Regions from separate parts of the Homo sapiens genome. Here region 2 is linked to region 1. A link means that fine-mapping ties the variant in region 1 to the expression of a gene that starts in the linked region. Tissue or cell type: tibial nerve. Region 1 holds a variant in brackets; the other region holds the start of a gene. All regions are shown on one strand. Distances are from middle to middle.

Evidence for each region. PIP is the estimated chance that this variant, and not a neighbour inherited with it, causes the effect.
Region 2: LNCOG starts here. The variant in region 1 is fine-mapped to the expression of LNCOG in tibial nerve (GTEx, PIP above 0.99).

The regions. Positions count from the first base shown.
Region 1 is chr12:76,309,587-76,314,894 of GRCh38, reverse strand. No RefSeq gene overlaps it. Among named protein-coding and RNA genes, the nearest start is that of BBS10, 36 kb to the left of the region's middle. The variant T/C (reference allele first, on the strand shown) is at 2,321.
Region 2 is chr12:76,257,989-76,263,178 of GRCh38, reverse strand. It overlaps LNCOG (lncRNA osteogenesis associated), which reads right to left and starts at 3,296. Exons shown (of 4, transcript NR_146531.1): 1 at 3,198-3,296.

The DNA of each region.
Region 1 (5,308 bases):
GTGCACACATGCTCACCCCACCCCTGCCTTCACACACACACACACACACACACACACACACACACACACACACACACAGAGCCTGGAGGTAACACTGAAATGAGGGGACCTGGTCCCTGGTCTACGTACCCCATTCTTCAGGGCAGAGGTTTCCTGTGTTTCTTTTTTTCTCTCTTTCTTCCTTCCTTCCTTCCTCCCTCCCTCCTTCCCTCCCTCCCTCCCTCCCTCCCTCCCTCCCTTTCTTTCTTTCTTTCTTTCTTTCTTTCTTTCTTTCTTTCTTTCTTTCTTTCTTTCTTTCTTTTTTCTTTCTTTCTTTTTCTTTCTTTCTTTTCTTTTTCTTTCTTTCTTTCTGTTCTTTCCTTCTTCTTTCTTTCTTTCTTTTCTTTTCTTTCTTCTTTCTTTCATCTTTCTTTTTGACAGAGTCTCACTCTGTTGCCCAGGCTGGAGTGCAGTGGTGCCATCTCAGCTCACTGCAACCTCTGCCTCCCAGGTTCAAGCAATTCTCCTTCTTCAGCCTCCCAAGTAGCTGGGATTACAGGCACCTGCCACCACGCCCTGGCTAATTTTTGTATTTTTAGTAGAGACAGGGTTTCACCGTGTTAGCCAGGCTGGTCTTGAACTCCTGACCTCAAGTGATCTGCCCACCTCAGCCTCCCAAATTGCTGGGATCACAGGCATGAGACGTCATGCCCAGCGCTCCTGTGTTCCAATTTTCCTACTTTCTGGCCCTGGAGCAATTGAGGCCACTTTAGAGAAGTGACAGCTTGACCACCACGTGAGATCATCTGAGGTCTTAATTGTAAAATTCTATTTTAAAAATGCTAATATTGGGAGTGGTGATGGTGGTAAAATCATATTTTTATATTTTTAATATACATAATTTTATTTAATTAGTTACTTTCATGTTATCACCATCATTTTTATAATCACAAAAATTACTGTAATTTTGGATTTTAATATATGTCAGACACAATGGCATATTCTTTACATGCATTATTCCCCTAAATTTTGAGGTACATGTTATTCCCCATTTCCTAAATAAGAAGCTGGGGCTTACTGAGGTTAAGTATTTGCCCAAGGTCACGGAATCAGTAAGTGGGAAGCCAGGACTCAAATTCTGTGGATTTTGAGTTAAAGTCCATGACTGTAACTACTCTGCTCTTCTGGCAAAATGATGAGGACAGATATTTCCTTTCCTAAATCTTAATTTTTTCACCAGTAACGATGTTCATAGCTCACATCTGTCTTATTTTTTATAGAGAAGAAGGGGCTTGGATATTTGAAAAGGGTTTTTCTGCCAAAAAGAGGAGAGAGAGAAGGATGAAGAGGCACCCAGCACTGCCAATGCAGGCATGAAGCCAAACCCGTTTGTCTTCCCTGGTATACAGAGTGACCACAGGGGACATTTTAAAAGCTCTAGGGAGTTAGAGAGTGCTGAAGAAGAAATCTGGGCAGCAGGGCTGCGGCCAGCCTTTCAGCAGTTTGTGCTGGGAGCTGCTCCCCAATGAGACTTTCACCTCAGCTGGGTTTGCGCGCCGTACTCCCTAGGCTGAAAGTTCTCTGGATCGGTCTCCTCGAAGCAGTGCTCCCGACAGGCAGCACTGAGCCTTTCACCTGGAAGGAGGAAAAGAAGGGTTTCGTAGACACAAATGGGGAGGAAGGCGAGGGCTGCCCTGTTACTGCGATGCCCTCATCAGCCAAGTCTGGGCTGCTCCCTTTTTTTTTTTTTTTGAGACTGAGTCTCACTCTGTCGCCCAGGCTGGAGTGCAGTGGCGCGATCTCGGCTCACTGCAAGCTCCGCCTCCCGGGTTCACACCATTCTCCTGCCTCAGCCTCCGGAGTAGCTGGGACTACAGGGCCTGCCACCACGCCCGGAGAATTTTTTGTATTTTTAGTAGAGACGGGGTTTCACCGTGTTAGCCAGAATGGTCTCGATCTCCTGACCTTGTGATCCTCCCGCCTCGGCCTCCCAAAGTGCTGGGATTACAGGCGTGAGCCACCGCGCCCAGCCCGCTGCTCCCTCTTTTTAAAGAGTGGCTCCTCCCCCTGTTCTAGCTTTCAGGTCTGACCAGAAACAGTCTCTTCTTTGACTCTGCCTCCTTGACCACAGTGAGTGGTCCAGGGATAAGCAAGTCAGATTGACTGAAGTGGGGAGAAGGCTCTCAAAGGTCCTGAGACTGTAAGATGTAAGAGACTCTGAAGAAATGAAAATTTTCCACTGTAGGCCTCCATGTCCTTGTCCACTGTAGCTGTTCCTCCCCACCCCCGCCGCTCACACATGACCGGACTGTTCCTCCCACTCCTCTTGGTAAAATCCAAG[T/C]TGTCCAAACAGTGACCGCTAATTGCTAAAGAAAATTCCTTCCTTTTCTAGGAACCATCTTTGTTCTTAAAACAAAGTGAACTTGAGCTGACCCTGCCTGCTGAAGCCCTATAAAAAATTCCACCCTCCTTCCCAAGTTAGAACGCTCCTTTTCACGCCGGCATTACTGAAAGGCTTATGCTAATGGTGTTCTTGGTTTTTTCCACAGAGGATATAAGTTAAGAGATGTTGAGATGCTAGCAGCAGGTCTACAGCTTGTGGAGAAGCCAGTCTGGGAGAAGGAAATTAACGTGCAAACAGGTTAAGAAATAAGTGGTAGAGGGAGAGACAGAGAGATCCCCTCGCGTTTAATTTTCCATCTTGCTTCTCTAAGACCAGGATTCTTCCCTGTTCTTCTCATTTTTGGTTATGTAAGTAAATTAGTTAAAAATGTAAGATTAAAAAAAGGAGCACCACAACATCTTCACATGTGGCTGTGCAAACGTAATGTTATAACTGTATACTGAAAGAAATTCGAATTTAGAGCCTCGGTGTCCAGGAATAAGGGTAAACATTATCTTGTCCTTTCACATAGCTCTGTCAGCTCACTCTCTTCTGGGTAAATGATGAGTCAGAAACACAGGATTCTTCTCTCATTCAATGCCACCCTCACTTCTGGGAATGAATAAGTTGCTGGAGAATCAGGATGTTGAAGAGTAATTTTTAAAAAACCCATGCAATTACACAATGCCAAAAATCTTGTTTCACTTATTATTTATTTATTTTTACTTATTTATTTTTTTTGAGACGGAGTCTCGTTCTGTCGCCCAGGCTGGAGTGCAGTGGCACAATCTCGGCTCACAGCAAGTTCTCCCTCCCGGGTTCACGCCATTCTCTTGCCTCAGCCTCCCAAGTAGCTGGGACTACAGGTGCCCACCACCACGCCCAGCTAATTTTTTCTATTTTTAGTAGAGACGGGGTTTCACCATGTTAGCCAGGATGGTCTCGATCTCCTGACCTCGTGATCTGCCTGCCTCGGCCTCCCAAAGTGCTGGGATTACAGGCGTGAGCCACCGCGCCCAGTCTATTTCACTTATTATTTAATAAGGAAACCAGTAAGAAGTAAAAATTGGTTGAAAGGAGAATTCAAGGACAAAACACATATATAGGCAATCAGAAATATTGAATTAATTTTGCCTATAGATGCAAAACTAGCCTCTTCCATAGAGTGGAAATCAATACACCTTCATTGGACAAAAGTCATTCTTATTTCTAAGAACAGGAATCATGTACATCACCACCAACCTTCCACCACTTAACTTCAATTTCTACAGATTTGCAAAATAGTCAAGGACAATGAAAGACACAGACCCACGTAGAATTTGATAAACCTGAAAGGGTCCTGTTTCCAGAAATTTTGTCAAGAATTCAATCTGTGTAATTTGATCCCCTACACAGGATCCATAGACCGGCTTAAATAGATGTGAGATTTGAATAACTGAATTTGAGAAATTGCCGGAAAATACACTATACATTTCCATCAAACCAAGAATATTCCTCTATTTTCATACAGTCCCCAAACTCAATTCACGGTCATTGTGACAACACAGCAACCACCTACATTTCTATTTTGCTCCATAAATTTTAGTTATGACAGGTTAGCCAGGCACACTGGAAAATCTCGCCACCAGCCCTTTGCACCCCACAATGAGATGCATGTGCAGATGGAGAGCTGTTGCAAAAACTAGGGCTTCCGTAGGGAGAGGGGGAAGGTTTACAGATTCCAAAATCAGAAGAAACACAACATCTGAATATGAACTTGTAGCCCCAATTAGGAAAATCTGAAAATCATGAGGGAAAGACTTTTAAACCAGCACCTCTCTTATGGGGCCCCCACCTGCTGCTTGGACATGATATACTCACATTTTGATATTCCATCCTGACTGTATTAGAAAGTATGATCCACACTCTTTCTTAGGCAAAGGCTCAAGAAATAAAAATGCTCAGTCTGGTGTGATTGTTCCTCAGAGCTTATGGTGGATTTTCTTGCTTCTTACTAGGAGAAAAAAATGGTCAAATAAAGCAAATTGAACACCTCACAAGCAAGTGGAGAATCAGCCTTGGATAGTTTCCCCATTCATAGCTGTGAAAGAGGTGGACACAGAGCCTGAGAGTCAGTAACTGCAAAGACAAAGCCAAAGGAAGGATCAGCACAGGCCCAAGTGAGGGAGTGCCACTGTAGACTTACAATTCTGGAGCAAGTCTAAAGACTCTTACTGTTGTTGATAGAGCATGACTCATTTATCTGGCATGGTTTGGGATGCTCCCCTATGGTTTAAATACCAGAGTTGGTATTGTACCTGGTAGTACAGTCTAGGTTCATTCTTTTATCCATTTCTTCATTCACACACAGGCATACCTTGTTTTACTGTTTTTCACTTTATTGCACTTCTCAGATACTGCATTTTTAAAACATGGAAGGTTTGGCTGGGCACGGTGGCTCACGCCTGTAATCCCAGCAGTTTGGGAGGCCAAGGCGGGTGGATCACCTGAGGTCGGGAGTTCAAGACCAGCCTGCCTAGCATGGAGAAACTCCGTCTCTACTAAAAATACAAAATTAGCTGGGCTTGGTGGTGCATACCTGTAATCTCAGCTACTCAGGAGGGTGAGGTAGGAGAACTGATTGAACCCGGGAGGTGGAGGTTGTGGTGAGCTGAGATTGTGCAATTGCACTCCAGCCTGGGCAACAAGAGCAAAACTCCATCTCAAAAAAACAAAAAACAAAAAACAAAAACAAGGAAAGTTTGTGGTAGCTCTGTGTTAAGCAAGCCTACCAGTTCCATTTTCAACAGCACGTGCTCACTTCGTGTCTCTGTGTCACATTTTGGTGATTCGCACAGTATTTTTAACTTTTTCATTATTATTATATATACATGGAGATCTGTGATCAGTTATTTATTTATGTATTTATTTATTTATTTATTTTTGAGACAAGGTCTTACTCTGTCA
Region 2 (5,190 bases), 52 kb after region 1:
TGGCAGTGCTAACCGCAAGGGTTATTGTGGGGATTTGATGTGATGATCCCTGTGAAGTGCTTAGAACAGTGCCTGCTGTGTGGTGGGCTCTCGATAAATGTCATTTATTACTATGAAAGGTTAGGAAGAGTAAAAATTACTTTGGTCTTTTCCATTAAGGTGAAATTGCCTCTGCAGATAACATGATCTTATATATGGAAAACCCTAAAGACTCCACCAAAAATCTATAAGAACTAATACATAAATTTAGTAAAGTTGCAGGACACAAAATCAACATAAAGAAATTAGCTGCATTTCTATACACTAACAGCCTATCTGAAAATGAAATCAAGAAAACAATCCCGTTTACAATAGCTTTAATTAAAAAAAAAAAAAAAAAAAAAAAAACTTAGTACTGGGTGGAGTGGGTCACACCTGTAATCTCAGCACTTTGGGAGGCTGAGGTAGGAGGATTGCTTGAGCCCAGGAGACCAGCCTGGGCAACATAGTGAGACCTTGTCTCTACAAAAATTTTAAAATTTGGCCAGGTGTGATGGTGTACACTTGTAGATACAGCTTCTTGGGGAGCTGAGGTGGGAGGATTGCTTGAGCCCAAGAAATTGAGGCTGCAGTGAGCTGTGATTGCACCACTTCATTCCAGCCTGGGCAACAGAGCAAGATCCTGTCTCAAAAAAATAAAAATAAAAATAAAAATATAAATAAACACTTAGGAATAAATTTAACTGACATGAAAGATCTGTACAGTTAAAATTATAAAACACTGATGAAAGAAATCGAAGACACCAATAATGGAAAGATACCCTATGTTTACAGATTGGAAGAATTGTTAAAATGTTTATACTATCTACATAAAGCAATCTACAGATTCAATGCAATCTCTATCAAAACTCCAGTGTTTTTTACAGAAATAGAAAAAATAATTCTAAAATTCATATGGGATCCTTAATGACCCTGAGTAGCCAAAGCAATATTGAGAGAAAAAAAAAAAAAAGCTGGAAGCATCATACTATTTGATATCAAAATACACTACAAAGCTATAGTAATCCAAATAGCATGGTATTGGCACAAATACAGACATGTAGACCAGTGAAACAGAGATCCCAGAAGTAAATCCATGTATTTACAGTCAACTGATCTTTAACAATGGTGCCAAGAATACACAATAGGGAAAGAAGAGTCTCTTCAATAAATAGTGCTGGAAAAACTGCATATCCACATGCAGAAGAATGAAATTAGATCCTTATCTCATACCATATACAAATATCAACTCCAAATGGATTAAAGACTTAAAGTAGATCTGGAAAAAGGAAACTCTCTAAACAAAAGTCCTCCTCCCTACCCCTCTTCCAGCTGCTTTGCATCTGTTTGTGGAGCTCCACTTTTGTCCCCTTAAAGGTAAATGAGCACTTTCCTCCTTCCATTTCCACTGCACAGGTAACTCTCAAAGGACTTCACACTCATTAACTCCAGCATGGAGAGCAAGGGACTAAAGAGCAACACTTTTCAGAGACAGTTTTTTAGAACATTTATTTTCTGATGATGATGGTCTTCCTCTGTTTTCCCAGAGTTGGATGCCTACCTAGAGAATCTCCAAAAAATGCAACAGTGTGCTTTGATGTTTGCCTACCATAGTTACCATTGTTAAATACTATTTATGGGTCCGGGCACTTCTAATCAAAAAGTGCCTGTAATCCCAGCACTTTTTGATTAGAATGTTAGAACTTTCAGCCCCATCCACCACTCCTATCACTATGCAAGGGAAAGGGGTTGGAAATTGAAGCTGGATGAGCACATTGGCTCACGCCTGTAATCCCAGCACTTTGGGAGGCTGAGGTGGGTGGCTCATTTGAGGTCAGGAGTTCAAGACCAGCCTGGCCAACATGGTGAAACCCCATCTCTACTAAAAATACAAAAATTAGCCAGACGTGGTGGCAGGCACCTGTAGTCCCAACTACTCATGAGGCTGAGGCAGGAGGATCACTTGAACCCAGGAGGCAGAGTTGCAGTGAGCCAAGATTGCACCACTGCACTCCAGCCTGGGCAGCAGAGCGAGACTCCGTCTCAAAAAAAAAAAAAAATAGTGAATGACTCAGTCTATTTGGGCTGTTATAACAAAATAGTATATACTGGGTAATTTATAAACAATGGAAAGTTGTTGCTCACAGTTCTGGAGGCTGGGAAGTTCAAGACCATCCTGGCCAACATGGTGAAACCCCATCTCTACTAAAAATACAAAAATTAGCCAGGCATGGTGGTATAAACCTGTAGTCCCAGCTACTTGGGAGGCTGAGGCAGGAGAATTGCTTGAACCCGGGAGGTGAAGATTGCAGTGAGCCAAGATCATGCCACTGCACTCTAGCCTGGGTAACAGAGTGAGACTCAGTCTAAAAAAAAGGAAAAAAAAAAATATGGGAGGCCACTGTTTTGGACTGATTCCTGCACTAGGCTCCATCAGCCGGGACCAAATCAAAATGAAATAAATTCTAGCTTCCACATAATTAAACTGAATTTAGAAATGGGCCAGTTAAAAAAAAAAATCTAGGAGATTCTCAGCAACCAATCCAAAGCCACCAAGTCAACCTGAGCTGACATAACATGAAAGGCCCTCTGCTTTAACCCATACAAGGAAAGTTAACTGAAGCCATCTGATGTTAACCAACCCACTTTTGGCATGACACCATTTCCTTCTTGCTTAAGCTACCTTACAGAAATCAACTGTTCTGCCAACCCTGGAGGAATGTCTTTCCATTTTATGAATGGGATGCTGACCAACTCATAATTGCTAATAAAAGCTAATGAGATCTTTAAATTCAATTTGTTGAAATATTGTTCTCTGTCATCCTCTACCCCATCACCTGTGCTCAGCACCACACCTCTGCTTCACTGTGCCCCTTTATTATTTTTCTAAAGCTGAACAAATCACATGGGCCCCACAGTTAGTGTTTACCTTATGCAACGACCTGTGTGGCCCCTATCAGAGCAAACAGAGAAACAGAAAGATACTCTTCCCCCCATATTAATTCCTCCTCTGCTCAAAAATGGCTTAAATTTCTTGAATTTCTTCAAGCCAGCCAAATGACAATCACAGTCATTATCTAAATGCAAACCCTTCTGAGATAGTGCTTTAATTCACAGTAAGATTCAAATAAATCATAACATCATATCTCGAGGGCAGATTTTCTTAAATGGGTACATACCGTTTTCATCAGTTGTTTTCTTAGAGCTCTGGATATTTCTCTTGTAAGAGGAACAATCTGTGCAATTACAGTTCTGTAAAATACAGCTACAGAATGCTCTGACTTAAGTGTCAGGAGAACAGCCAAGGAGCAAGTTGAGAACTGCCTGGAAGGACCTCTGGCATTACTTTAAAGCCCTGCCAGATCACTTCCGGTATCACATCATCAATTTCCTACCCCAGCTTCACTGACTCCCTATATTAGCATTTCCTGTTAATGTTTTTCATACCCACATGTGAGGGTTACATGGAATTTTAAGTTAGATTCAATAGAAGGAGCAGCAGTATAGAAATACAGTTATTAAAATTCCACTGGTATCTTTCTACTTGTTTTAATGACTACTAAAAACTTAAAAATTATATTGTGTGGCTCACACTATATTTCTATTAGGCAGTGCTGCCTTAGAAAATTCTAGTCATTTTCTAACAGAAAACCTATATGTACAATTAAAAACACTTAAACTGTGGGGGGTTACTAACAACATATACCCTTTCCCCCATTCGGTTTCTCTCTGTAAGCAGTTTAAATTACCTCTTCATTTGCTGAAGATAAAAACTTCAATATTTGAGGATTAAGAAGAGCAAAAGAGGGTCAGAGAAAGGAGATGTTCCCTGCCAGCAGTGTCCTTGTCACATGCTGGGAAGTGAGTTGGCCTAATGGCATTTAACAGTTTGACATGTGAAAAAGAAGAAAACAAGCTGCCTTTTAATCCTGGCATTCTAACCTCTCTCTTCTAATCTCTCCCTAGCCTCTGTCTTCTAGGAATGTGGGATACATTGGGTTGGGAAGTAGAGTGACCTTTGACAGAGATTGGGATGGGGTCCAGGGCAGCTGGCTCCTCTGAATAAATAGGTAAAGACAGGTACAATTAAATAGGGAGTAAGCATTTGCTCAGATGCAGTAGTCCACTAGGAGCCAGTAATCTGTCTAAGTCAATAGAATCCAGAGAAAGTCAAGGTAGTGTGAAGACAATGACGGAAAACTTCATCCACAGAGAAGAAAGAGTAGAATGAACAGATGACCACAGTCTTCCGATGGATGAAGAACCAGCTGTCCACTAAGACTTGTCCCTCATGGCTAAATTGCAGTACCAAAGTTATCTTTCCTGAAGCAATTAGTCTTACATTTTCTCTCTTGCTGTTCACATATTGTTGTTCTGCCATTGAGAAGCAAATGATGGCCAGGTGCGGTGGCTCACACCTGTAATCCCAGAACTTTGGGAGGCTGAGGCGGGTGGATCAGGAGTTCAAGACCGGCCTGGCCAGCATAGTGAAACCCCATCTCTACTAAAAATACAAAAATTAGCTGGGTATAGTGGTGGGAACCTGTAATCCCAGCTACTTGGGAGTCTGAGGCAGGAGAATCACTTGAACCCAGGGGGGCGGAGGTTGCAGTGAGCTGAAATCGTGCCGCTGCACTCCAGCCTGGGTGACAAGAGGGAAACTCTATCTCAAAAAAGAAAAAAAAAAAGAAGCAGCAGCAAATGATGTGTAGAGACTATGGAGACTCTTCTGTCCTCCCACAGATAATGTGCAGATAACATCATTCCAACATCTAAAAATGTGTTATTCATTTATTTCTGCAGAGGCAATATTCTTAGTATTGTACCAGTGACAGCCCTTGGGAGTTACTAACTGTTTATAGAAGAAATTTTTCCTGATGAAATAAAGATTCTGAGTTAATGTCTCTTTTAATATCTTGGAACATTCTGGGGGAGGCTGACATTTTAAAAATATCTTGCTTTGAATATAGGGTCTCTACAGTTGATATATCTAAGCACAATATCAATATGGAATCAGAAATTAGAATAAAAGTGAGCTGGGTATGGTGGCTCATACCTGTAATCTCAGCACTTTGGGAGGCCAAGGTGGGAGGATCACTTGAGCCCAGGAGTTTGAGATCAGCCTGGCCAACATAGTGAGACCTCATTAGAAAGAAAAAAAAAAAGGGCCAG